Regions from separate parts of the Homo sapiens genome. Here region 1 is linked to region 2. Evidence: fine-mapped expression QTL. Tissue or cell type: whole blood. Region 2 holds a variant in brackets; the other region holds the start of a gene. All regions are shown on one strand. Distances are between the middles of the regions.

Region 1 (2,614 bases), 24 kb after region 2:
AACAGAGTGAGACCCTGTCTCTATAAAAAACAAAAAAATTTTAAAAATTCCTCCTCTAATTTTCTCATAAAATTGGACTGCTTGGCAGTTCATGAAGAAACACGAAAGCCCAGAAAACATAACACAAATTTATGAGAATAACTCTTTCCTCCCCAGAGAGGGTAGAGCCAAAAAAGGCCTCATAAGATACCTTCTGCATCACAGCACTAGGGGGCGGTGGGAAATAAGTACAGGACAGTTAAGGAACTGTGAAGCAGGGAGGCCGAGTAGGAAGATAGGGCAGAGGGTAGAAGGGGGCAATACAGTGCTTTGCATTAGAACTATGAAATAGATGATAAATGAAAAGATAAAGTCTGCAAAAAAAAGAGCATCAGACACTATTCCCTTTAATGCTCCACCGGAGAATCCTCTCCATACTTTAGTCAATGCATCTCATTACATTTTATTATCCGGTGACTATTACACAGCTTGATTATGAGCTATCTGAGGACTGGAACTCTCTCGTTCATTTTTGAATTCCTAGAATGTAGCAGAGTCCTTGGTGCATAATGAGCAGTTCAGTAAAGATTTGCAGAAAAACAGAATAAAATACTAACACCACCACCACCACCACTAACACTTAAGTGAGCACTAAACTGTGTGCCAGGCATTGTTTTACCTGCTTGACCTGTGGTAATTTATTTAAAAAACGAGAAGGGCTGGGCACGATGGCTCAGGCCTGTAGTCCCAGCACTTTGGGCCAACATGGTGAAACCCCACCTCTACTAAAAACACAAAAATTAGTCGGGCGTGGTGGCGGGCGCCTGTAATCCCAGCCCCTTGGGAGGCTGAGGTAGGAGAATCGCTCGAGCCCGGGAGGCAGAGGTTGCGGTGAGCCGAAATCAAGCCACTGCACTCCAGCCTGGGTGACAGACGGAGCCTGTCTCAAAAAACAAACAAAACCTCCCAAGGAACAAAACCAACCACGAACACTGAAGCTATCAATAAAGTTTTTCTCTCTAGCGCTCCAAACTAGCCACAGCGCGCATGCTCACGCTCACGTGGCACGCTCGGGCGGCCTCTTCCACTTCCCTTGCCCCGTCCCTGCACAGATCCAGGCTGTCTCTTGCGGTGCGCATGCACCTACCGTATCGTTATCAACGTCTCCGAGGCAGATTGCGTGCGGGAAGAGGCTCCCGCTGAACTCCAGCGCCACGCGCTGCACGTAGCTAACTGACCTCATGGCACCTCCAAGAGCAGAGGGAGCGGAGAGGCCCAGTAAATATTCCCTGAACCCCCGTCGCGACAGCCGCCAGAGCGGAAGGCCACCTAAGGCAGCAAGTTACGTCACTGCCTGAACCTCCAATCTCTGCCTCTTCCTCCTTTAACCTTACAGAGGAGGCGGGTCTTCCGGGCTTGGAGGCGGGCTTCCCAACTCTGATGTGAGTGACAGGCCCACGGGCCACTCCTTTTCTCCACAGGGCTGCAGACCGTGGGTAAACCAACCCTGACGGGGGTCGATCTGTTCCCTTGGCAACAGGGCTCCCAAGGGCTTGACCTAATAACCTTGACCTTTTTCCTTTGTTTCCCTGGCAATGAAGATTCCTAGCCATCAGACCATTCCTGAGAATCTTACTAATCTTCGTAATAACTGATAATTGCATGGTTTTGAAAAGTGTTTTTAAAAAACTACCCATTAGGAGTGAAAACAATGTAGTGAGTTGCAATCAGCATATAAAAAATTAAATACAATAGTAATATACCAAGTGACTCCCAGGTAGTAAGGTAAGTACAGTTTTTGTGAAACTCTTGTTTCAATTGTATATACTTATATGTGTATACTGGCTTATAATGTAAAAAAAATTTTTTTTTTCAGTGTATGTGTTTTCTGGTCAATAGTTTAAAAGCCACCTGCTGCAAAGCACATTTCACATATTTCACATAATTAGTTCAGCCACTATGCGAGCTTTTTTTTTTTTTGGCTGAGGAAAACAGGTTCAGCAAGATTAAGTAAAATGGCAGAAGGAAGGATTGTGGGGCGGGGTGCGTGCTCAAACCAGAATTGTTTGATCCCAAACCCTAGGGCCTCTCCATCATTTACTATCATAGTTCGTAGGAGAGTCTTCAGGCTGGAAGTGAAGGTTGCCTGGATTCCGGATCTGCTCTGTCTTGTGGCCCCCCAGCACAAAGCTCTTGCATCTCAACCTCAGTAGCCTTACTCTTGTAGCACAGATGGGACTGTCACTCTCATGGCTGGCTTCTTGGGATACTTTCTTTCCATGTTGAATCCAGTTCTGCCTTTCTTTGGGGTGCCTCGTCAATCAGGGCAATATTTATGAAATCATACAGGTGTTCAATACATTTTTAGATTTAGGTCTAAAAACCCAGGCTGACTCGCACTTGGTGTTTCAAAAAAAAAAAAAAAATGATTCTACCTTATCTGGGATTTTGGACCAGGGGCTGTTCCTTTTTATCTTTTTTTTTTTTATTTTTATTTTTATTTTTTTTTGAGACAGAGTCTCGCTCTGTTGCCCAGGCTGTAGTGCAGTGGCGCAATCTCGGCTCACTGCAACCTCTGCCTCCCAGGTTCAAGCAGTTCTCCTGCCTCAGCCTCCCGAGTAGCTGAGACTACAGG
Region 2 (2,756 bases):
AGGCACAGCGTAAATTGAACAGACCTTGGGAGAGAGAACACAAGGACTGGACCACCTGCTCTGCTATATCATAACTGAATCTTGGGCATATTTTCTAAGAATTTTTTTCTTTTAGAGACAGTGTCTCGCTCTGTCACCCAGGTTGGAGTTCAGTGGTGCCATCATAGCTCACTGCAGCCTCGAATTTCTGGACTCAAGTGATCCTCCCACCTCAGCCTCCTGAGTAGTTGAGACTATAGGTACATGCCACCACACCTGGCTAATTTTTAATTTTGTTTTGTTTTTGTTTTTTGGGTTTTTTTTTTGAGACGGAGTTTCACTCTTGTTGCCCAGGCTGGAGTGCAATGGCACAATCTTGTCTCACTGCAACCTCCTCCTCCCGGCTTCAAGCAATTCTCCTGCCTCAGCCTCCCAAGTAGTTGGGATTACAGGCGTGTGCCACCATGCCCAGCTAATTTTTTTTTTGAGACGGAGTCTCTCTCTGTCGCCTAGGCTGGAGTGCAGTGGCGTGATCTCGGCTCACTGCAAGCTCCACCTCCCGGGTTCACGCCATTCTCCTGCCTCAGCCTCCTGAGTAGCTGGGACTACAGGCGCCTGCCACCGCGCCCGGCTAATTTTTTTGTATTTTTAGTAGAGACGGGGTTTCACTGTGTTAGCCAGGATGGTCTCGGTCTCCTGACCTCGTGATCCGCCTGCCTCGGCCTCCCAAAGTGCTGGGATTACAGGCGTGAGCCACCGCGCCCGGCCATGCCCAGCTAATTTTTTGCATTTTTAGTGGAGACAGCGTTTCACCATGTTGGCCAGGCTGGTCTCGAACTCCTGATCTCAGGTGATCCACCCGCCTCAGCCTCCCAAAGTGCTGGGATTACAGACGTGAACCACTGTGCTGGGTCCTAAGACTTAATGTACTAGTTTCCTGGGGATGCCATAACAAAGTATGTATCACAAGCTTGAGTGGCTAAAACAATAGAAATTTGTCATCTTACAGTTCTGGAAGCTGAAAGTACAACAGGAAGGTGTTGGCAGGGTTGGTTCCTTCTGACAGCTGTAAGGCAGGGTCTGTTCCACGCCTCTCCCCTGGCTTCTGGTGGTTTGCTGGTCCTCTTAGGTGTTCCTTGGCTTGCAGATGCATTATCCC[G/A]ACCTCAGCCTTCACGTGGCGTTCTCCCCATGTGCGTTTCTCTCTGCGTCCCACTTCCTCCTTTTAATAAGAGCGCAGTCATATGGGAGTAGGCTCATCCTAATGACCTCATCTTAACTTCACCATATCTGTAAAGGCCCTATCTCCAAATGAGGTCGCCTTCTGAGGTACTAGGGGTTAGGGGTACATTTGGGGGGTGAAGGAAACAATTCAACCCATAACACTTTCTTTCCCTCTAAATGGGGATTAGAATACAGTATTTCTTCATATAATTGCAGTGGTTGTGAAAGTGTCTCAAAGAGGCTTGGTTCCTAGAAGCTCAGCAGACATCTGGTTTGTCTGAAAGTACATGTGCCTTGGAGCTGTCTGAGTCAGACTGCACCCTTAGGGAGCAGGGCTCAGGTGGGGTAATCACCCTGTGAGCATCCAACACAGGTAAACAGGTGCTTGGCCAATGCGTTTCCCTGATGGTGAAGAGGAAAGGCTGGAGAGAAAAATCTGCTGATAAGCCAGGGCTAGAAAAAGTCTGATACCAAGTCCTGGAGAGGATGTGGAACCTCAGGAGCCCCTGTGTGCAGCTGTCTCAGTGTGCACTGGTAAAAACACTCTGGCAATATGCCAAAAAGGCAAAGCTGTATATGGGATGCCCCAGCAATTCCACTCCTAGGTGTAGGTGTATACTCTAGAGAAATGCCTACATAGGTGCCCCAGGAGATGTGTGCAAAAATATTCATAGCAGCATTGTTTGTTAGACCTAAAAATGAAAAATAACCTACATTTCCTCAATGTCATGCATGCATCTAATGGAATACTATGTTACACAGCAGGTGAAGTCAATTAACTAGAGCTGGGCATACCGTATGGATGAATCTCACTAACAAAAACTATTCAGCAAAAAAGAGCAGATTGCAGAAGAATAAATACAGTGAGTAGGACAAAACCAACGACATATTGCTTAGAATGCATATGTAAGTATTTGCATAAAGAATATAAAGAAGTCTGGGCCTGATAAACACCAATTTCAGCAGGCGGAAGTGGAAGTGCACAGGGAGCTTCAACAGCTTATTTTTTAAACTGGTGATGAGTGAAGAGTACTGGTTATCTTATTCTTTATAACTTCTGTATATTTGAAATGCAACATTTTTTAAAGAGCCAGGACTTGAGGAGAGTCATATAAAGGAGACTGAGATGCCAGGGACAATTTCTACTCGTGGGAAGATTCAGAGTTGTTCCTGTCATTCCCTGGAACCCAGAATCCAGAGTCAATTAGTTAAAGACTCTGACATCTGCTAGGCGGGAGGCAAGAGACCTAACAAGGTAAGGCTAGGGGGATGAGAGGAGGGAAGGACGCTCTCATGCTGCCCCTCTTTGATCTGAACCCAGTTACTGGCCTGCGCGCCAGCCCTGGGCTGCAGATAATGCCAGGAGAAAACAGCTGGGCAGTCCTGGGAAGCCTGGGAGGGATGCAGAGGAGGGCGGGGGCCACACACGCTGGGAGGTGCACTAAGGCTGCTGCCCCCACACAGTGACAAGCGCTTCCTCGCAAACCACCTGGCACGGGCACCCTGACAGTTTACAGCACTGTCTCTCACTCTCCTTCTCTCTCTCTCTCTCACAC

Evidence for each region. PIP is the estimated chance that this variant, and not a neighbour inherited with it, causes the effect.
Region 1: it holds the start of ITFG2, and the variant in region 2 is fine-mapped to the expression of ITFG2 in whole blood (TOPMed, PIP above 0.99). The same link has a PIP of 0.9 or more in T cells, blood mononuclear cells, lung and monocytes.

The regions. Positions count from the first base shown.
Region 1 is chr12:2,811,369-2,813,982 of GRCh38, reverse strand. ITFG2 (integrin alpha FG-GAP repeat containing 2) reads right to left here and starts at 1,315. Exons shown (of 12, transcript NM_018463.4): 1 at 1,127-1,315. The coding sequence starts at 1,222. ITFG2-AS1 (ITFG2 antisense RNA 1) reads left to right here and starts at 1,059. Exons shown (of 4, transcript NR_146317.1): 1 at 1,059-1,421. RefSeq lists enhancers at 1,039-1,288, 1,019-1,768 and a silencer at 1,399-1,488.
Region 2 is chr12:2,835,187-2,837,942 of GRCh38, reverse strand. It overlaps a transcript of ITFG2 not described here. Among named protein-coding and RNA genes, the nearest start is that of NRIP2, 1.5 kb to the right of the region's middle. RefSeq lists enhancers at 2,138-2,681, 2,682-2,756. The variant G/A (reference allele first, on the strand shown) is at 1,139.